Linked DNA regions of Homo sapiens. The protein of the gene in region 2 purifies or fractionates together with the protein of the main gene of each other region. This does not show direct contact. Each region holds a gene or a part of one and is shown on either strand. Other genes may lie near its edges.

Region 1 (7,022 bases), on a different chromosome or scaffold from region 2:
AATACCAGATACTAAGTCATTAAGTACTAATTGATGCGGCCCATTGGCTCTCCTTTTCCCAGGAATTCCCAGAGAAGCAGGAACTGCATAGGAATATGCTAGGACTTTTGGGGAATGTGGCAGAAGTGAAGGAGCTGAGGCCTCAACTAATGACTTCCCAGTTCATCAGCGTCTTCAGGTTGGTATTTTTAATCCTTTCCCTTTTTGCCTTAGCTGCCACAATGCTCAGAGCTCTAGCGTTTGCTCAGTTGCACAACTGCTCTTAGCCTAGGTTTGCTATAAATGTCATTTTCCCTCGATAATGTGGTTTCTTATTCATTCAATCCTTCGTAAGTGGTCCTTTTGTAATTATATCTTTTTTTTTTTTTTTGAGATGGAGTCTTGCTCTGTCACCCAGGCTGAAGTGCAGTGGCACAATCTAGGCTCACTGCAAGCTCTGCCTCCCGGGTTCACGCCATTCTCCTGCCTCAGCCTCCCGAGTAGCTGAGACTACAGGCGCCTGCCACCACGCCCAGCTAATTTTTTTGTATTTTTAGTAGAGATGGGGTTTCACCATGTTAGCCAGGATGGTCTCGATCTCCGGACCTCGTGATCCACCTGCCTTGACCTCCCAAAGTGCTGGGATTACAGGCGTGAGCCACTGCGCCCAGCCTGTAATTATATCTTAAATGACCTCAAATCCCTTTAGAAGTAGTCTGGGTATATAGACGATATGGGATAAAGAAATAAGTAGCACCTCTTGCTTCTGGTTTTAAGTTGGGGTCCTGCCGCTGGTATCTGAAGAGAAACTGGGGGAGTGGGACTCCATTTTTCTGTCTTTCTCCTGGCAGCAACCTGTTGGAGAGCAAGGCCGATGGGATCGAGGTTTCCTACAATGCCTGCGGCGTCCTCTCCCACATCATGTTTGATGGACCCGAGGCCTGGGGCGTCTGTGAGCCCCAGCGTGAGGAGGTGGAGGAACGCATGTGGGCTGCCATCCAGAGCTGGGACATAAACTCTCGGAGAAACATCAATTACAGGTGTGGGCAGGGCAGGGAGCGGGGATGCGGTGTGGAATATGGGGTAAGTGCTGGGCAGGATGCTCATACCATTAAGGTCTGCTCAGAGCTCCCACCTTCCTTCTGGTCTTCTGTAGGGTTCTGCTTTCACTCATTGATACGTAGCCGCACACAGCACAGAGCATACATAAGGGCACGATCTCATCCGTGCAGCCTGGAGCATTTGTCATACATGCCAACATCTGCATGTACCCAAAGCCTGCTCTTTGCAAACCACTAATACCTACTGATTTGTGGGGAGGGGTGGGGAGAAAATAGACACACAACAGAAAACCATACAGGTGGGCCGGGCACAGTAGCTCTTGCCCATAATCCCAGCACTTTGGGAAGCTGAGACAGGAGGATCACTTGAGCCCAAGATTTCCTTTCTTTTCTTTTTTTTTTTTTTTTGAGACAGAGTCTTGCTCTGTCGCCCAGGCTGGAGTGCAGTGGTGCAATCTCAGCTGACTGCAAGCTCTGCCTCCTGGGTTCACGCCATTTTCCTGCCTCAGCCTCAGAGTAGCTGGGATTACAGGCACCCGCCACCACGCCCGGTTAATTTTTTTGTATTTTTAGTAGAGACGAGTTTTCACCGTGTTAGCCAGGATAGTTTCGATCTCCTGACCTCGTGATCCGCCCACGTCGGCCTCCCAAAGTGCTGGGATTACAGGCATGAGCCACTGCGTCCAGCTGAGCCCAAGATTTCAAGACCAGCTTGGGCAACATAGTGAGACTTCCTCTTTACGAAAAATTTTAAAAATCAGGCCAGGTGCAGTGGTTCACGCCTGTAATCATAGCACTTTAGGAGGCTGAGGCGGGCAGATCACGAGGTCAGGAGTTCAAGACCAGCCTGCCCAACATGGTGAAACCCCGTCCCTACTAAAAATACAAAAATTAACCTGGCGTGGTGGCACATACCTGTAATCCCAGCTACTCAGGAGGCTGAGGCAGGAGAATCGCTTGAACCCAGGAGGCAGAGGTTGCAGTGAACCGAGATGGCGCCACTGCATTCCAGCCTGGGCAACAGACCAAGACTCCATCTCAAAAAAAAAAAAAAAAAAAAATGAGCTGGGTGTGATGGTGCACACCTGTAGTCCCACCTACTGGGGAGGCTGAGGCAGGAGGGTCACTTGAGCCCAGGAGGTCGAGGCTGTAGTGAGCCAACATCATGCTACTGCACTCCAGCCTAGGGGACAGAATGAGACCATTTCTTTAAAAAAAAGAAGAAGGTCAGGCGCGGTGGCTCACACCCGTAATCCCAGCACTTTGGGAGGCAGAGGCGGGCGGATCATGAGGTCAGGAAATCGAGACCATCTTGGCTAACGCAGTGAAACCCCACCTCTACTAAAAATACAAAAAATTAGCCGGGCGTGGTGGCATGCGCCTGTAGTCCCAGCTACTCGGGAGGCTGAGGCAGGAGAATGGTGTGAACCTGGGAGGCGGAGCTTGCAGTTAGCCGAGATCGCGCCACTGCACTCCAGCCTGGGCGACAGAGCGAGACTCCGTCTCAAAAATAAATAAATAAAAATAAAAATAAAAATAAATTAAAAAAACAAGAAAACAAAACAGGGCCGGGCACAGTGGCTCACACCTGTAATCCCAGCACTTTGGGAGGCAGAGGCGGGCAGATCATGAGGTCAGGAAATCGAGACCATCTTGGCTAACGCAGTGAAACCCCACCTCTACTAAAAATACAAAAAATTAGCCGGGCGTGGTGGCATGCGCCTGTAGTCCCAGCTACTCGGGAGGCTGAGGCAGGAGAATGGCGTGAACCTGGGAGGCGGAGCTTGCAGTTAGCCAAGATCGCGCCACTGCACTCCAGCCTGGGCGACAGAGCGAGACTCCGTCTCAAAAATAAATAAATAAAAATAAAAATAAAAATGAATAAAAAAAACAAGAAAACAAAACAGGGCCGGGCACAGTGGCTCACACCTGTAATCCCAGCACTTTGGGAGGCTGAGGCAGGCGGATCACCTGAGGTCAGGAGTTCGAAACCAGCCTGGCCAACACAGTGAAACCCCATCTCTGCTAAAAATACAAAAATTAGCCAGGCATGGTGGTGGGCACCTGTAATCCCAGCTACTTGGGAGGCTGAGGCAGGAGAATCACTTGAACCTGGAAGGCAGAGGTTGCAGTGAGCCAAGAACTCGCCACTGCACTCCAGCCTGGGCAACAGAGTGATACTCCATCTCAAAAAAAAAAGAAGAAGAAGAAAACAAGAATCGTTCATAATCTCACTCCCTGAAAGAGAACTCCTGTTGACATTTTGGTGTGTCTCCTTCCAGCAGTGTTTCTATGCACAGATTTCATTACTTTAAGTCAAGCTGGCATCAATTCCTACTGTTTTGTGACTGACTGGCCAATCACCAGGCATGGATCTCCCTCGTCATTTTAGGACGGAGTCACTTTCTTTGTGCCATCCTGTACAGATGGACATTTCAGTTGAAAACCCATACTGGGAGGAACAGGCTGACATTGGTAGCGTTGCCAGTGTGCCAAGTACTATAGTTCTTGGGGAGAAAGGAAGCGGAATCGCTGGCCCAGGAGTTTTGCACACACGTGTTTCAGGCTTTTGGACCATGACTCCAGGCTGGCCCACAGAAGGCCCTCGTCAGAAGAGCAGTCACAGGCCGGATGCGGTGGCTCACACCTAGAATCCCAGCCACTTTGGGAGGCCAAGGCAGGAAGATCACTTGAGCTCAGGAGTTTGAAACCAGCCTGGGCAATATAGTGAGCCCTCACCTCTACAAAAAAAAAAATTTTTTTTTTGAGACGGAGTCTCGCACTGTCACCCAGGCTGGAGTGCAATGGTGTGATCTTGGCTCACTGCAACCCCCGTCTCCCAGGTTCAAGCGATTCTCCTGTCTCAGCCTCCCGAGTAGCTGGGATTACAGGTGCACGTTACCATGCTCAACTAATTTTTTGTACTTTAGTGGAGACGGGGTTTCACTGTGTTGCCCAGGTTGGTCTCAAACTCCTGAGCTCAGGCAATCCACCCCCCTCAGCCTCCCAAAGTGCTAGGATTACAGGTGTGAGCCATTGCACCTGGCCAAAAAAAATTTTTTTTTAATTAGCCAGGCATGGTGGCTCACACCTATAGTCCCAGCTCCTCAGGAGGCTGAGGTGGGAGGAACACTTGCATGGCCTGGAAGGTCAAGGCTGCAGTGAGCTGTGATCATGCCACTGCACTCCAGCCTGGGCAGCAGAGCGAGACCCTTTCTCCAAAAAAAAAAAAAAAAAGGCCAGGCATGGTGGCTCACGCCTGTAATCCTAGCACTTTGGGAGGCCAAGGCGGGTGGTCAGGAGTTCAAGACCAGCCTGGCCAACAGCAAAATGATGCTCTAACCAAAAATTAGCTGGGCATGGTGGCATGCACCTGTAGTCCCAGCTACTCGGGAGGCTGAGGCAGGAGAATCATGTGAACCCAGGAGGCAGAGGTTGCAGTGAGCCGAGATTGCACCACTGAACTCCAGCCTGGGCGACAGAGTGAGACTCCGTCTCAAAAAAAAAAAAAACAAAGAAAAAAGGGCTGGACATGGTGGTTCACGCCTATAATCCCAGCACTTTGGGAGGCCAAGGCAGGTGGATCACTTGAGGTCAGGAGTTCGAAACCAACCTGGCCAACATAGTGAAACCCTGTCTCTACCAAAAATACAAAATTTAGGCCGGGCGCGGTGGCTCACGCCTATAATCCCAGCACTCTGGGAGGCTGAGGTGGGTGGATCACGAGGTCAGGAGATCGAGACCATCCTGGCTAACACGGTGAAACCCCGTCTCTACTAAAAAATACAAAAAAATTAGCCGGGTTTGGTGGTAGGCGCCTGTAGTCCCAGCTACTCGGGAGGCTGAGGCAGGAGAATGGCGTGAACCAGGGAGGCGGAGCTTGCAGTGAGCCGAGATCATGCCACTGCACTCCAGCCTGAGCGACAGAGCAAGACTCTGTCTCAAAAGAAAAAAAAATGCAAAAATTAGCTGGGTGTGGTGGCACACCCCTGTAGTCTCAGTTACTCAGGAGGCTGAGGCAGGAGAATCGCTTGAACCCAGGAGGCAGAGGTTGCAGTGAGTGGAGATTGCACCAGTGCACCCCAGCCTGGGCAACAGAGCGAAACTCCGTCTCACAAAAAAAAAAAAAAAAAAAAAAAAAAAAAAAACCAGGTCACACGTGCTTCTGTTCCCAGGGTGCCTCTCCCCTCTTCCCCACAGGCTGGGTCTCTGCTCCTTGCTGAGGTCTCCAGCTTTCTGCTCCTCCTAATCTGGGTCCCTTGTGCCTCCCTCATGTGCTTGTGCCTTTATCCTCTCCAAGGGAACCTTGTTGTGCAGCCTGCCAGTGGGATGCAGGGCCAGCTGTCCCTTCTCCCTGGCATCCTGCCAGCCTATCATGGTTGGTCACTAGGATTCTCCAGTGGGAGGAAACCTCAGACAAGAAAAGACACACTCCCCACCCTCAGCATCCACAGTGACCTTGATTTCTTTTCCTGCAGGTCATTTGAACCAATTCTCCGCCTCCTTCCCCAGGGAATCTCTCCTGTCAGCCAGCACTGGGCAACCTGGGCCCTGTATAACCTCGTGTCTGTCTACCGTGAGTGCCAACTTGTCCTGGGTTCAGACACTCATCCAGCTGAAAGCAGATGTGCCCTCAGGGAGTTTGTAGTCCAGGAGGGGGGCATTAATTGCTGCTGTCAGCTTTTGTGCCTCAGAGCAGAACCCTCCACTTTCCAGCGTTTGTGGGACACCCAGCTTAAGGGCTCACTCCTGCCTCATCACCAGAAGCAGGCCTGGCAGGCGAAATACCTGTGCAGAGTTCCTAGACAGCTTTCTTAATGCTTCCCGCTTCCATGTGCAGGAACAGTCCAAAATCTCCATGCCTGCTGGGCTCAGTGGTGCACACCAGCTATTCAGGAGGCCGAGACAGGAGAATTGCCTGAGGTCTGGAGTTTCCAGCTGCAATGACCTATGATCATGCCTGTGAATAGCCATTGCACTCCGGCCTGAGCAACATAGTGAGACCCCCATCTCCAGAAGTAAAATAAAAGTCTCCATGCTGTCTGCATGAAAAAAAAAAAAAACACATACCATCAGCTGGTTCCAACCTGGCAGGTCACCAGAATCACCTGGTAAAAATACAGATAAATCTTAGTCCTTGGATTTGTTGAAAAAGAATATCCAGAGACAGGGCTTAGAAATCTATATTTTTACAGAAATTCCTCAAAGGATCACCATCTTTAGGAGCCACTGGTTTCACTGGTTTGGGTGACATCTTCCATAGAATGAGCGCTGGAGGCCAGGCATAGTGGCTCACACCTGTAATCCCAGCACTTAGGGAGGCTGAGGTGGGAGGATTGTTTGAGCCCAAGAGGTTGAGACCAGCACAGGCAACACAGCGCAACCCTGTCTCTACTTAAAAAAAAAAAAATTAGTCCGGGTGCAGTGGCTCATGCCTGTAATCCTAGCACATTGGGAGGCTGAGACGGGCAGATCATTTGAGGCCAAGAGTTTGAGACCACCCTGGCCAACATAGTGAAACCCCGTCTCTACTAAAAATACAAAAATTAGCTGGGCTTGATGGCACGTGCCTGTAGTCCCAGCTACTAGGGAGGCTGAGACAAAATAATCGTTTGAACCCAGGAGGCAGAGGTTGCAGTGAGCTCAGATCGTGCCACTGCACTCCAGCCTGGGTGACAGAGTGAGACTCTGTCTCAAAAAAAAAATTATATCTATTATATATATATATATATTTTTTTTAAGATTTTATATATATATATATATATTTTTTTTTTTTTTTTTTGAGACGGAGTTTTGCTCTGTCGCCCAGGCTGGAGTGCAGTGGCGCGATCTCGACTCACTGCAAGCTCCGCCTCCCGGGTTCACGCCATTCTCCTGCCTCAGCCTCCCGTGTAGCTGGGACTACAGGCGCCCGCCACCATGCCTGGCTAATTTTTGTATTTTTAGTAGAGACGGGGTTTCACCGTGTTAGCCAGGATGGTC
Region 2 (7,022 bases):
AGTATACTGTTAATTTCAGGAACACTGAGGTGCTTTACCCCCTGCCTGTGTATTAGCTTATCTAAATCTAGGAGCTGACATTCTGTATTCACTTGAAAGTATGTGAATCAATTGGTCCATTCTTCATCCACAAAAGTGGAAAATAAGAAAAGTCCTCTGAATGTACACAGATTCAGCTTGGATTTATTCTTGTGTGATATGAAAGCACACCTAGAAAAGAAGGTCTAGTAACTGCATAGTAAAGGTAAATGCCAGTAATTACATCAGTAGAACAATGCCACACCTAAGGATGTGAGAGGTCTTCCTCCCTTGCAGACTCAGAGAACAACTTGGTTTGACTCCTTCCCTGCGTTAAAGAAAGATCTGCTTAATGAATAGGCAGATCCCTCAGCATTCCTATCCATTTTCTTGGAGAAACCCTGTGATAATATCATTTTTCTTTTCTTTTTTGGACCTTTATTATATGAAGTTGGGAAAAGAGAAAGAAATAATGGGCCAACAGAGTTCCCTAAGTGCTTTGAGGGTATTATCTTTGGGGAATTCAATTAGGTTATACAAATTTTAAACAAAATTCATCTTCTCTTTATTCCCAAAGAAAGGAAAAAGTGCTTGTCTGGTGTTATTTTCTCTCTGCTACAAAGGCAAAGTGACTTTTTCTCTTGATATCAAAAGATTTGGAAAGTAAAAGTCCTTTCCCTATTTGCCAAGTGAAGCCTCTTCAGTCCCTCAAGACAACTCCTATAGTCTTTTCTAAACTTATAGAGGAGAAAAATCCCCAAACCTGTGACTGAAAACCTTAGGGATTTAATTTTTCACTACATTTGTAAGTATAGTCTTTGAATTATTTTGAATGGAGTAGCTGTCAAAATTGAATAGAGTCAAATATCTACATAAAGATACACACATAATACATGTATGTTATACTGACAAAATAATGTTTATGACACTCTCCATTTGAGAAATCTCGAAATTATAAACACACACACAAAAATGCACATACATCCATATGTACACACACACTCACACACAAGTAGTAACAACTAAGGAACAGTTTAAGATTCCACCAAAATCTTCATTCCTCGTTTCCTTAGTAATTAAACAAGTATTTTCTGAGAACCTAGTATGTGTCAACTCAGTAGAAGTGAGAGATAAAAGGATGAACAGAGGATTCCAGAATTATCTTGGCCCATGCTTCTCAATGCATGTAATCTGAATAGGTATGGTAGATGCTGTCGAAAAAAAAAGTGTCTGGAAAATTTTAGTTAAACAAAATCAGATTTCTTACACGCAAATCTTTCCAGAACTTTCATATACTTACAAGCACTGCAAATCTCCAGGAGGAGAACATAACAAACAGTGGACACTTTTGTCCAAGGAGTATCTTCAGAAGACAGTGTTTCATGAAGTATAATTCTGAAATGCTGGCCTAGACATTTTACTGGATTAAGACCCTTAAAAGGAAAAGGGCCTCATGATATTTTCCTACTTATTCTCCCTTCTTTTTTCTTAAACTGGAAACGTGGTTTGGTATCTTTCTAATTTTACCATTGAAACTCTCTCACTAATATTTTAAGCTTTTTGATAAAAAGCAATATATGTTCATTCCAAAAATGAATCCAAAAAATAAAAATTATAGGAAGTTAAAAGTTCAAGTCATTCTAGTCCTCTCACCAGATTTAACTACCACTGTAGAAAGGATGTTTATATCCTTTTTGACATTTTTATGTATGTGCAAATATGATTCTTTTCTCCAAAATTATTTTGAAGCAGAGTATTCTGTTCCTTGTTTTCTCCACTCAGCAATGTAACATGGGCATTTTTCCTCGTGGGTAGATAGACATATTCTCATCCCTTTTAATGTCTACATCAAATCCCATTGTGTGGATGTGCTATGATTTATTTTACCAATCCCCTTTTGACGGAGATGAAACTCCTCTTCAATTTTTTGCCATTAAAACCATTGTTGCAATAACTATAGCTTAACATACATCTTTTCACATTTGTCTAATAATTTTCTTAGTATAAGCACCTGGAAATGGAAGTGTCAGGATTTGCACATTTTACATCTTGGGAGATGTTACTAAATTGTTATCAAAAATGGCATGCCGATTTATCCAGTTAAGCTTTGATACTTTCGCAGAAAGTTTAAAATTGAAAGAATGTTTAAAAGAGTTCAAATTGTCTTCTTAAGTAAACTTTAAGAAATTAACAATTAAAGGCTAAACTTCATTTTTGCCATTTCTAAATATTTTTGTTTGCAGTGTGGTATAACATCTATTTTCCCTAACTAGGAGTTGAAACCATAGGTTTGAGCTTACGTAAGTAAGAGTTTTTATAGCATTGTAATAATTTTCTTATAAGTTCATAAGATCAGCAGGAAATATTTATTTGCATCTGTATTTGGCTTTGATATTATAGGGTCTGATCAAATATCAATAGCTGCACCCTGACTCTGCGATGAGGTCAATAGGATCAATCAGATGATCGATGGATTATCACTAAGCACCAGCTTGCACCGAATAACAACCTGTCTGCTCCAATCCTTAGGCCAATTCGCTATATTTAGCAGCCTAGCACTGGTACGCATTCTTAAAGAGCCAATATGCGACCATAGTTGTACCCACTATTTCTTTTATATTACAGTTATAAAACAACCCTTTATTGTAATGTACTCTGGTATTCTACTGCATATTCTCTGAGCAGCTTTCAATAAAGTAATATTGAATAGTAAGGTAAAAATAAGTATAAGGCATACAAAAATGCTTTTTAATATTTTAACAAAAATATCCTACTTTAAAATGGAAGGTGATGTTCAGTATGTAATAATCAAGGCAAAAATGAATATATCTAACACACATAGTTTGCTTAATATAGCTTTAAATCAGGTCAAGTATAAATTACACAGACAACTCTATTCAGAGTAATCTTTTTATATATCATTTCCGTACACCCCTGTCGATAAAATAGCAGTGACTCAGGAATAAATGATTCATTAGGCACTTAAAACTTCTTGTCTCATGTAATTTATCTATATAATTTAAAATTACTGAAGAATCCCAAGGATCTTCTCTTGCTAAATAATTTTGAGATGATTTATATTTTACTAAGTTTCAAGGACACCCACCCCCCCACCACCCCCCACACACACACATTCAAAATTAAGTAACTATCAAAATTGCTGTCCTAATTCATATATCCATAAGGGGAAAAACTCATCCTAAAACAGAAAATTATGATTAGCAAAAACCGTTCAATCTTTTTTTACCTGTTACACAAAAAAACCTGGTGATTATAAAGAGTTGAGGTGTCTATTTTATAATTACCTGAAACAATTGAACACCACTTTTGAGTTTTCATTTTTTAGTGTGTCTTTTTACAACTAAATGTCCTGTCTATAGCTTTATAATGAAAAATAAAAAAGAAGCTCAAGTATTCTTCAAGTTTTTAGGGTAATTTCCTACATCATTCCCCAAATAAAAACTTGATCCAGCCAAATATTAAATTATTGAAATTACAAATCTGTTAATCTACAGCACATTTTACTCATTAGTGTAATTTTAAAATTCACTTTCATTTGATTGACTGTTTTAATCTTCCTTAACTAGTGAGTAACTGAAAATAAATGGTGCATTCCTAATACTATAAATATGAAAAATAGGAAGTAGTTAGAGACTGCAGGCGAATACATTAAAATGAGTCAGTTTTCTAGTTAACATATTCTCATTCTGTTTGTGTACAAACCCACTGCATTGAGAAGACAGATCACAAATTCACGGCCTCACAAAAACGTGGTCTCGATTTCATGTTATGACAGCAGAAATTGGCCCAAGTCTCTAACCATTTCCCCTAAAGGACCCTGGCTGGCTGGTGCCATCCAGGTGAGGCAATCTGAACGAGGGGAACATCACGTCAAATTCCACTCACCTGTCAATGTAGTGGATTATTTCTTGAGAGACTGAAATTGGCTGTTTGCTGTCTGAATACCATCAATATTACCATGCAAGGAACAGCCAAAGTGCCCGTAAGAGGCTGGGGAACAGAGGGAGGGGATTGGGGGGAGCCATTCCTAAGCAGGTGAGGAAGCAGCTGTAAAGCTTTCACTCTCCTTCCATTCAAGGCTCTGAGTGAAAGATTTGTCATTTTCCACATTTCCCAGATACTTGGTATGCACGCGGAGTCTGCCTGCTCTTGCTTTATGAAAGAGGTGATTTTTCAAGCTTAGGCAAATGTGGCAGAGCTCAGGGTCTGCGGGTGTCTCATTTTTTTCTCATCATGTCACTTGTTTTAACCGATTTGAGAAAATGAGATTATGTTTTTCCTTTTTGCTCATTTATCCAGCAATTTATTTATTTATTTGTTCATTTAGGGGTGGATTGTCACAGATAACTGGCCCTGATTTCTATCTTGTTTTCATACACATTTCATTAGTGTCCCTGGAGATTTAAGACCTACAAGGGAAAACGTCACAACTCTCATCCAAAATAAAAGCATATTTTTATTCTTAAAATCAAAAGATTGTATTAAAGAGTCTGACTGGAATAATCTAGAATATGGCTATGACCAAGATCTATCACTTTAATCTTTGCAGCTATTGTCAAAAACCAAAGAAAGTTGAATAAACGTATTATATAGAACTATTGGATGTTAAGTTTAATATCATTTTAATCATTCTGCATCTAGGAAGGGATATTTATAGTTTCTTCATTTCAACAATAAAGCTGAAATGGGTCTCAGATGTATTAGCACTTGGGGTCAAAATTGGTTTCAGTGCTGCAGTTTCTTGGGGTATTTGACGCACAGATCAACCACGCATTGGTTGATAATACACAAATTCTAAGGAAGAAAATGGAGAAAACAAATATTGAGTTTAATTTCAGCCAGAACCTAATATGTGATTCTCAGTTTTAAACTACGGTATTTTAACAATAAGCCCTATAAAGACATAAGTTTACTTATTATACATAACCCCCAATGAAAAACTCCATATATTCACTGATTAAGAGAGACAACTATGTGAAAGCTTGTTACAAACGGTACTGTATCTATTTCATGATTATACGCACAGAGTAAAATAAGACACATAGCATTGGTAGTATATTCTAGCCATGTACCACATGGTTAACAAAACAATAGCAAGAGAAAAAAAAGAGTTGTTGCCTTGGCTATGTGGATTATTAGCTGTGTGAACAGCAAAACTTTATTCATCAAACATCCCTGGCTTGTGGGTTTACAGTCTATTAAGGGGGGACATCAGTAATTCCCAATATTTGTGAAGAACTTTACAGCTTACAAAAGACTTATTCGAAGTTATTTTTATTATATTTACACCCCACCTCTCCCCGCCCCCAACCACCATATCTATAAATGGGGAATGAGAGCAGAAAAGTCAGTTGCCCAAGGTTATGTCACTAACCTTAAGTGACAGAGACTCAGGTGGCCAGCCCCGAGCCCTGCCTTTCCCCCTCAACCACGTGCCACTCACTAGTTCTGCCATGGCCACCTCTCAGAATGGGTGTGCAGTTGAGATTGGACCAAGTATTGACATAATGAAAGTTTTCAAAAATTATATGAAGGGGCTCACACTTCCTCAAAGAAGCTATTTGGCATGGTCACTCGGTGCACCGAGAGGCATTTTCGCCTCCTGAGGACACAGGCTCTGGCGGTGAATCGTGCTGATTTGACCTCCAATGGCAGCTATTCCCTGTGTGGCCTCAGACAAGCCACCTAACCTTTCAGAGCTTCTGTTTCCTGGGCGAAAGGGGAGAAATTACACCCACTTGCATAAGGATTAAACTGAACAGTGTGAACTAATCCTCAGAGCCCTGCCTAAAACATACACGTAGTAGTTGTTTTTATTATGAATTCTTATTCTTGATCATCACAACGAATGCAGATGTCCCGCACTGTTTATTATTTATGACCATGTAACAAGTGAAAGACATTTGTGCCAGAACAAATTGTGATTAAGTGATTGGAGGTAAAGTGGGAATCTCAAATTCACTTTTGTTTTCCCTCCATCTCGGCTGCACTGAGGGTTTGAGTGGCGGTTCCCGCGCCAGGCTCAGGACACAGGATGCAGAAATACAAGCGCGTCCTGAAGAGGGCGGTTTCCCTGCCCACCTGCAGGGGCACCAGCGCCCCCTCGCCTTCCCTGTCAGACCAGGGCTGGGGGAAACAGGGTGGCAGGGCCCAGAAACAGCCCCCAGCCTCAGCCCCTAGCACAAGCCAGCCCCACCCCTTCTCCCGGGGCGGCCCGAGCTCCAGCACCCAGCAGGCTTGCGCGCTCGCTGCAGCCTGGTGCAGGCGCGCGGGAGGACCCTGGGCTGCATCCGCGCTCTGACATGCCTGCCCCCAGCAGGGAAGCTGAGCCCCAGGAGGCAGCAAGCGGGGCCCCGGAAGGTATTGCTGGAGGGCTGTACAGAAGAGCCTAGTATCGGTGTCCAGGCCGACTGAGGAGCCAGGGAAAGGCGAGGGCGTAGACGCTGGACTACGCAGCAGGAGGAAGCTCGACGGATGGGGGGAGGAGGCCATTGATGGGATTTGGAGAGGCGGGTGGAGGGCTGGGAGCACTTCAGAACTGAGCATCAGAAACTTGGGCGCGCAACTGGTCCCCAGAGCCCGAACTTGACCGTCGCGAGAGAGGAAGGGAGGGGAGGGAGGGAGGTGGGGTGGAGGGTGAAGGCGGGGTGAGTAGTAGAAGGATGCGAAGGCTGATACTGAACAGAAAATGGAAGGAAATTTTTCCAAGAACCGGGGAAGGTAAGGACAATCGAGCTGGGAGGGACTGTAATGAGAAAGCTGGAGAGGCAAAGAAGGAGAGCAAAATCCAGAATGAAGAGCGAGGCCGTGGAAGGGTGAGAAATATACTTTGAACATTAAGAGGAAGAAAGCAAAATGCGTCCGGAACTAAAAATTCAATATAGGAAAAACAAAACAAAACAAAACAAAAATCAGGTGGGAGGGACTTCGTCCCTGAAACTGCCAAAAGAGAGGGAAAAATGCCACTGAGCATACCGGAAGAA
Region 3 (7,713 bases), on a different chromosome or scaffold from region 2:
TGTAGTGAGAAACATTTCATGGGCGGTGACCTCCTTAAGGCCTGAGTGCTCAGGCTTCTCTTTGGGCTCGTGTTCTCACATGCCTGTAAGTCTCACATTCGCTTCTCTCTCCTTCCCGTGCCAGACACAGTTGTCTGGATTAGGTGCCTGGCTTTTAGAATTTGGGAAGCACTGCTGTTGACTCACTGCTGGGCCTGTGTCCTTTCACTGGGCCCCAGGGACAAGTCTTTTTGTACAAGTCTTCTCCTTGAAGGATGCCAGGCCCCTCTGTGGTATTGTCTGCACTGCATGGCCCATGTCTAATAATACTAATTAATAAGCTGTCACCTATTAATAACACTGGAATCATCATCACATAGGTGACAGAAAGCCAAATAAACTCCAGCAGGCCAGCATTGCAGCACAGCTCTTGGGGGAGGAGAGGAGAGAAGAGCATGAGGAACGTTTGAAGGGGCCTTAGGCAAAATGCTTTGGGCCAATAGCACTGGGGGCTGAATTTGAAATCTGCTTAGGAATAAGGCATGTGTGGACTTTAATGACTAAAAATCCAAGCTTATGGGGCAGGTTGGGAGCCTGGAGGGTTTGACTCAATTGAAGTGCTAGCTGAGGGATTAGAAGAACTCTCTAATGCCTGATTTCTAGTGACTTGGTCTTGGCTGGAGAAGACTGATGTTCTCAGGTTTGGTTGGGGTCGAGCAGTGGGAACTTAGATAGAAACACTCATTTAATGGATGAATAAACTGAGACATGGACCGTAATTTTTTACCCCAAATGTTATTGAAAGAATGAGTAAGTAAAAGAAGGAACCTATGTAATGAGGCTAAAAATGTCCCAGAAAAAGCAACCCTTGAAATTCACATCCTAAGAGTCATTAGGGTGGCAGGAATGGATATGCCAAGTCTTTTTATGCAGAACTCTGATTTTATAGGCATAGTCTTATTTATAAATGTGCAATTGCATGTATTTCAATACATAACATAATAAAACCAAGTTGCTGTGAGGATTAAATGAGATAATGCATTAGTGCACGCCAAATGCCTAAAAATGCCTAACTTAGTACCTGGCGGGTGGTAAACGTCCTAATAATCAAGGCTGGTAGCTGGTATACCTTGGTCAGGCCAAACCAGTTGCTCTTGGTCACCTTCCAATCTGATTGGTTGCTGACTGGACCATCTCAGATATTAAATATTTTAAATTCCACTCTGTTAATAATGACCAATACTTTCCATTGTGGACTTCCCAGGTGCCATTTACTATTGTCGGTGCTTTTGATACAATTCTCACAGGAAGCATTTGATACCATTTTTCCCATTTTATAGATGAGAAAGTGGAGGCTTGAGATGTTCAAAATTTGGCTGAGGTCTCATGGCCAAAAAATGGTGGAGCTGGGATTTGAATCCAGATGTCCTGTTTGCAGAGCCTTGGGATCTTAACCATAATGCTTCTAAGTAGAGGGTTGGCAGGGGGTAACTTGTGGTAGCAGTTGTTATTATTATTGTTATTATCATCACTGAAATAACTTTTTTTTTTTCAGAATGCCATGGGCAATGTATTCTTTTGATTGGTAGTGAAATTTTTTCTTGCTACATGCTGAAAGCACTGGTCTGGCACATTTGAGAAAAGCTGAAACAGTCCCTGGTCTGTTCTGTCCCTGAACTGAGTGAAGATGGAGCCCCACAATCTAATCAAAGGAAGGAAGATAGGCCTGTGAGAGAACCTTCTAACTTAATGACCTCTGATAATGGCCCTCCTTATCCCAGGACGGAGATGAGAGCTGAGAAGGCCTAGGGTCTCTGAGGGTTTCAGTTGTACCCATTGAGTCCTCCCTTAAAAAATAAAAATTAGTACCATTGCTGACATGGCACCATCATTTGGGCAAACAACTGATATTGCTTTTTGCTTATGGTTGCATTACACGTCTGCAAGGAGACCCATCTTACTCTCTTTGATGTTGTCTTTCCCTGCTATTTTGTACATAACCATCTTCACAAATTTGGAGCTATCTGGGGAATGCTGGATCACTAGAAAGAGCCGAATGGTAGTTAACTAAAATGGTATGGAGGAATGAGACAAAATAAGCCCACAGATTTCATGATAAAAGGCAAACTAAAAGGATACAACTGGAGTAATTGAAAGATAAATAACACTTAAGGAGCCTAAGAAAGTACAAAGCAGAATAAAATGATAATAACAAATATATTCAAAATATATAAGTTAAAGTAGGTTAGACATCAAGGGGGTAAAATGAAGTAAATAATAGTGACTACAGTGATACCCTAAATAATAAGCTAAATTATTAAAAGGGATATAATAACTTGAAATAAAGGAATGCCAACTATAGGGGGCAGTCCAAAGTTAATAATCCCATGCAGGGGCAAATGCAGACCTGTGGGCTGGGGTAGCGAACATCTGTTGAGTACTTCTGTGGGGCAGGCATCCTACGGGTATTTTATTACTTGTTTCTCAAAACAACTCTGTGAAGTAAGTACAGGTGTTACCTCCATTTTATAGGTGAGGATGCTAAGACTTGGAGAGGGTAAAGAAAGTTATTCAAATCACAAGGAATTTAGGTGGCCCAGAAAGGATTGGAATCCAGGCGTGTCCCTTAACCTCTAGGCTGTTCTGCAGACGCACTTCTCACGGGGATGTCCTTCCTAGGCTGGTGTTTGCCACAGGAATCCCACAGGCGCTGACATCTGCAGGGCACTGAGTCCTCAGGCTCTCCCTTGAGGCTTCCGCCCTCTCATCCCTTAGGTCCTTCAGGTCTCTTCCTGCTGCCCCCGAGATGAGCGTACAGTTTCCCTGGCTATTCCCGATGTCCTGCTGGATCATGGTGGCTCCTTTACATGGTTCTTCCCTCAGGAGCTCCTGACATCTAGAGCAATCCCATGCACTGTGCCTTCTGAACTTCCCTTCCACATTCTGTGGACAAATTTGGTACAGAGACTTCTAGGAAGGCCAGGTAAGGAGGATATGGAACTGGTGGCCAGGGCAGTTCAGGTCTAGAGTAAATAGGTGGGAGGTCAGATGTCATATAAAATTAATCCATGAAGGCATGTTCGTTTGTGTTCCTAAAACTACTGGATACCGTGGAGGTGTTGAAGGCTGGAGACCCGAAGACACATAAGAAAATGAGATTGTGATCTGAAAGGCAAAATAGACTGAAAAGTAGGCTAGTAATGATGGAAGTGCATATGTCCGTCTAGTCCCAGCCCAGATGCCACTTTAGTCCACCAAGCTTGCCTTGATATCCCCCACCTCCAAATCACAATTAATCACTTGCTTATCGACAATCCCATAGAGCTTCCTTTACATTGCTCTCATGATTATTTTCCCTTTGCTTTATAGAAACACATTTCTGTCCTCCTCCAATGCTTAGTGGAGTCCTTGGGGTTCAGACCTTGATAGATTCATTTTGTTTCTCATGAGCATGATGCCGGGTACATGTGCTATTAAAGTTTGCTGGGTCAGGAAAGTGCTAGGATGCTGCAAGAACATCCAGTAAAGGGCAGAAATATAAGAACTACCATCCTTGGCTGGAGGCAATAGAGTACTGTGGCTAACAGGCAGGCTCTGGAGTGGGATAGACTTGAGTTCAAATTCATTCTTAGCAGCTTCCAGCTGTGTAACCTTGGGCACCCTCTCTAAAGCTTCAACTTTTAAGACTGTGGAATGGATCTCAACTGTCAAATAGCACAAACCTCACTGGACTGAATGAGATGACCCACGTAGTGGCATATGGTAAGTGCTCAACAGCTATTAGTGGATTGGTGCTGGTCCAAGGGAGGACATGCCAGTGCAGCCCTTAAAAAGGGAGCTGGAGAAGAAAGGAGTTTGGGGCTGCATTTTCACATAAGGTGCCAGGGCCTGATGCTGAGCAAAACCTTTGTATTGGGTGCCACCGACTGTCATCTCTTGTTTAGGTTTGACTGGGGAAACGTTTCCACAGACATGAACTAGTTTGTCAAGGCTGGCAAGGGATTTTCAAGGGTTTAGGGGTGCAGTCTAGGCTCAGAGCTCAGAGTGCAAGCCACAAAAGAGAGCCATCTTCCTGAGTCACCAAAACACTTGATTCGGGCCTCTGACCCTTAGCTGGCAGCCCCTTAGGATAGGATGGGCTGTGCCTGGGTCTGTCTTTGCTGCTAGGGGCTCTGAGAGAGGAAGCCCCATTTGTCACTTTCATTTCTATGTCCCCAGCCCCTTGCAGTATGCTTCATCCTAAGCAGGCATTCAAAGTGCTTGTTGAAGGAATAGATTTGTGTCCTAGTTACAGCCCTGACTTCCACTAGATGCTCAAAGATTGCCCTGATTTTGCAAGGAAGAGCAACTACTCAGGGAAACTGAGGCACACTTGTAGGTTAGAGTCCCTCAGTCTGCAAGGAGACACACACATCCTCAGCAGTGGGGAAGTGGTTTGGTTACTGAAGCTGTAAATAAGAATTTTGTCTTTATATTAATTCCTACTCTGATTCTAGGGAAGAACTCTCCTCTCAGGCTGGAGTAAGGGGAGAACTGAGCTCAGACACTGCCTCTTAGTTGTGGGGGCTGCAAACTGCCCCTCCCTCATGATATCTTCTCAGCTGTTTGCAAAACAGTCAGGGAGGAGGTGAAGCCCTGAGCCAGGCGGCCTGTCTGTCTCTTTAAATGCTGGGGTCTGTGTGGGAGAGGGAGGGGCCGGCTCTGGAGTGCGTGAAATTCCTGGGCTCCTCCAGCAGTCTCAGGCTCAGCGCTCAGCCCTACACATCGCCTCTTGCATGCAACTCACAGAGAGGGAGAGGCAACCTGTCCTCCCCTCTCTCAGCCTCGGCATCTCCAGCCACCAAGGACCTGCTTTTCGCACCTCCAACAACCCCTCCCTTCTACCCTGCCACTCCCTCCCAGAGAGAAAGGAAAAGGAGAGAGAAAGATTCTGGAATTTGAACCTACCCAAAGAGGAAACATACCCAGCAAACTCAGTTGATTAAACATCAAACAGACATACAGACAGATCCCAAATCTTCTGTTCAACTGGAAAGGTAAGGTTTGCGGGGAAAGGAAGGCAGTCAGGGCATGAAACAACTCAAGGTTCTTGTCCGTTCTGGGAAGAGGTTGCTCCTGAGAGGGTAGAAGTTTTCAGTTGGGAGCAACCAACCTAGATTTTCTTTTTTGAATACTGTATCCATGAGCCTTGGCTGACTGTGGAAATGGCTTTTCAACTGCCTTTCTTTTCCTTCAGTTTCTCCTGGAAGTTGGGTCCTTTTCCTCCAGATGTTGGAAAAGTCAGAGAATGTTTTAGATTTTTATCTTCTTCTTCTTTTTTTTTTTTTTTTTTTGAGTCTTTCTCCTATTTGCTTGAATTGTTAGTCTGAAATGATGTGTGCTCATCACTTCATTTTGGGCAGATACTTTTTTTTTGACATTTTGTAGTCACTTCCCCCCTCATTTATTCATTTATTTATTTGGGCTGGTTAAAATGAGAAACAGAAAGGACACTCTGAGGATCACAAGAAAACAAAATTGAATTGAGACAGGGATTTCCCTAGCTGTTGAGGAATTGACGTGTATGTGAGTGTGTGTGTGCTTTTTTTTTTTTTTTTTGAGGGGGTGTGAGGAGGTGGTCCTAGAGTCTAAAAATTCAGGTTGGACTCCTGTCTTGTGAAGGTGGGCATACTTGGAGAAGGTGAAAAGGGAGTGTGTGTGTGAGTGTGTGTGTGTGTGTGTGCGCGGGTGTGTGCTCCTGTTTGGATCGGTTACAAGGGAATCTTCCTCCACTGCCTTCCATTTGTTTATATTAATGATTTAGTAGCAGGCTTGCCTGAAAACTTCCACTCTGTGTAAGCACTGTGGGTTTTGCAAGCTCTCAGTGACCTTAAAGCCTGGTTCGATGTATTGTTTTTTCCAGGCATTGTGCTGTACCCAGAGTTTCAGCTCTTTCCCTCTCTCTTTTTTAACCACAAAACTTAACTGCTTTAGAAACATCATCCTGATGACAAGGAAAAAAATGTGTCCCCCCACCCCCCATCCCTTCTTAGGCCAGTGATGTAATACCAACCTAAGGGCTCGGCTGCTTTGCAGGTGACTTACCCTGTGATTACTTGTTAAAAAAAAATAAAATTTTCCCTTCCTCCATTAAATGTCTGCCTCTTTTAATTTGGATGTAGAAATATCATCATGCAATGAGAACATCATATTTTTGCTAACCATTATTGGGGTTTAGGTAAAGTAGGATTGCTCTTCTCTGATCTTTATTGTTAATACTTTTTTTTTTAATGCAAAGGTCAGAGATCATTGAGAGCTAGCTTAGGATGGAGCAAGATAGAGTCAGGGCAAATAAAAGAGCTGGTAGGACAAGAGCTGTCTTCTCCCCGCTTCCTTCGGTTCCCGCTTTGGGGAGATAGTTTTTCTTTTACCACTACAAGCCACCCCAACATTCTTCTTTCTTCCTCTCCGCTGGGTCCTGTGGATGGCCCTGGGAGGGAGAGGGGGCACTCCTTGTCACACCTGGAGGATGGTGTAATTTTGGGGGTCAGATGACCGTTTGCCTTTGTGATGAAGGTTCCAGTGGAAATTTGAACTCCCAGCACGCTGCGTGACTTGGTACCCAGGATAGTCTATCTGGGGGCACCTGGAGGTTAGTCTGGGGAGGCTGGAGAACTGGCTCTTTATTAATTTGCCGTTCTGGGTAGAGCCTTCCTTCATCGTTCAAGGGCTTCTGCATCGCCTTTCAAGTTAAAATGGTCCCGCTGGTTATGATGGGCAAGTTTACCTAAGGGCTACTGGGTATGTGGCGGAAGGATGGAGGGGAGTGAGAGGAGGCAAGGCTGGTATTTATTTTTTAATCTTCGGGCTTAATCTGCCTAAGTCATATGGGGCAAACGATATTTCAGACGGGTGCTGGTTGTGCAGATATTCCTATTGTTTGATTTTTTGTTGTTGTTGGGGAGTGGAGTAAGGGCTCTTGGCCCATTTTCTGCAGCCTGAGGTTCATCCTGCGAGTCAGTCTTCCTTCTGGAAGGGGGGGAAAAGGCTGGACACTGGAAGTTCGCTATTAAAGTGAGCAACAGGGCTGGGTTTATTTTTTAAAAACAACCGGACTGTGCGAATGCCCTTTTCTGGAGCTTTCTGGCCCTTTCTAGTGAAATAATAATTTAAAAAAAATTGCTTCTTGAGAAGAGGAGGGGGCAGAAATTAAAGGGATTCTAGATTTTGAGAGACAGCTACGTCTTTGCTTCTCTGGTAGTTCCCTATTATTAATTATTGGGGTTTTGACGGCGTTCTGGCCTCCGTTTTTGTTGATTTCATTTTAGTGCTGCGTTTCTCCTGACTATGTTGATGATTTGCTGCTTATATAAGGGAAAGGATGTATTGAGGTGGACTGATGCTTGGGGTTTTGAGATCGGCTACTGAGATTGGGTGGCGGTTGGTGTGTTTGTCGATGTGCATGGTAGGAAGGTCTTTTCTTTTGGGTGGTAGGGGATGAGAGAATGGTGGGAGAACGGTAGATGAGATGCTACAGCAAACGGGGATGTGGGGGGAGACGGAGGTGAGGTTGGAAGTCACCGGTTTGCAGAATTTCTATTCTGCACCCCCCTTTCTCTCGCTCCTGGAAAAAAAATCCATTATCTATAAAAACACATTATTCTTCAATTGGCCTTTTAGAGAAAAAAAAGAGAGAGGGAAGGGAGGGGTTAATTTGGTGAGGGGGCTTGGTCGTAATTAGCCCACTGCTGCAAA

Evidence for each region.
Region 1: the proteins of TAFA1 (region 2) and ZER1 purify together in Homo sapiens (affinity purification with mass spectrometry; 2 studies listed by BioGRID and IntAct, with this or other methods). This does not show direct contact.
Region 3: the proteins of TAFA1 (region 2) and NRXN3 purify together in Homo sapiens (affinity purification with mass spectrometry; 2 studies listed by BioGRID and IntAct, with this or other methods). This does not show direct contact.

The regions. Positions count from the first base shown.
Region 1 is NC_000009.12:128,733,928-128,740,949, reverse strand, and holds part of ZER1 (protein zer-1 homolog), read left to right. Parts: intron 1-62; coding exon 63-178; intron 179-830; coding exon 831-1,019; intron 1,020-5,518; coding exon 5,519-5,616; intron 5,617-7,022. UniProt on the Homo sapiens protein: Serves as substrate adapter subunit in the E3 ubiquitin ligase complex ZYG11B-CUL2-Elongin BC. Acts to target substrates bearing N-terminal degrons for proteasomal degradation with the first four residues of substrates being the key recognition elements.
Region 2 is NC_000003.12:68,007,247-68,014,268, reverse strand, and holds part of TAFA1 (chemokine-like protein TAFA-1 isoform 1 precursor), read right to left. Parts: intron 1-7,022.
Region 3 is NC_000014.9:78,165,660-78,173,372, forward strand, and holds the start of NRXN3 (neurexin 3), read left to right. Parts: upstream 1-4,713; 5' UTR 4,714-5,015; intron 5,016-7,713. UniProt on the Homo sapiens protein: Neuronal cell surface protein that may be involved in cell recognition and cell adhesion. May mediate intracellular signaling. Functions as part of a trans-synaptic complex by binding to cerebellins and postsynaptic GRID1.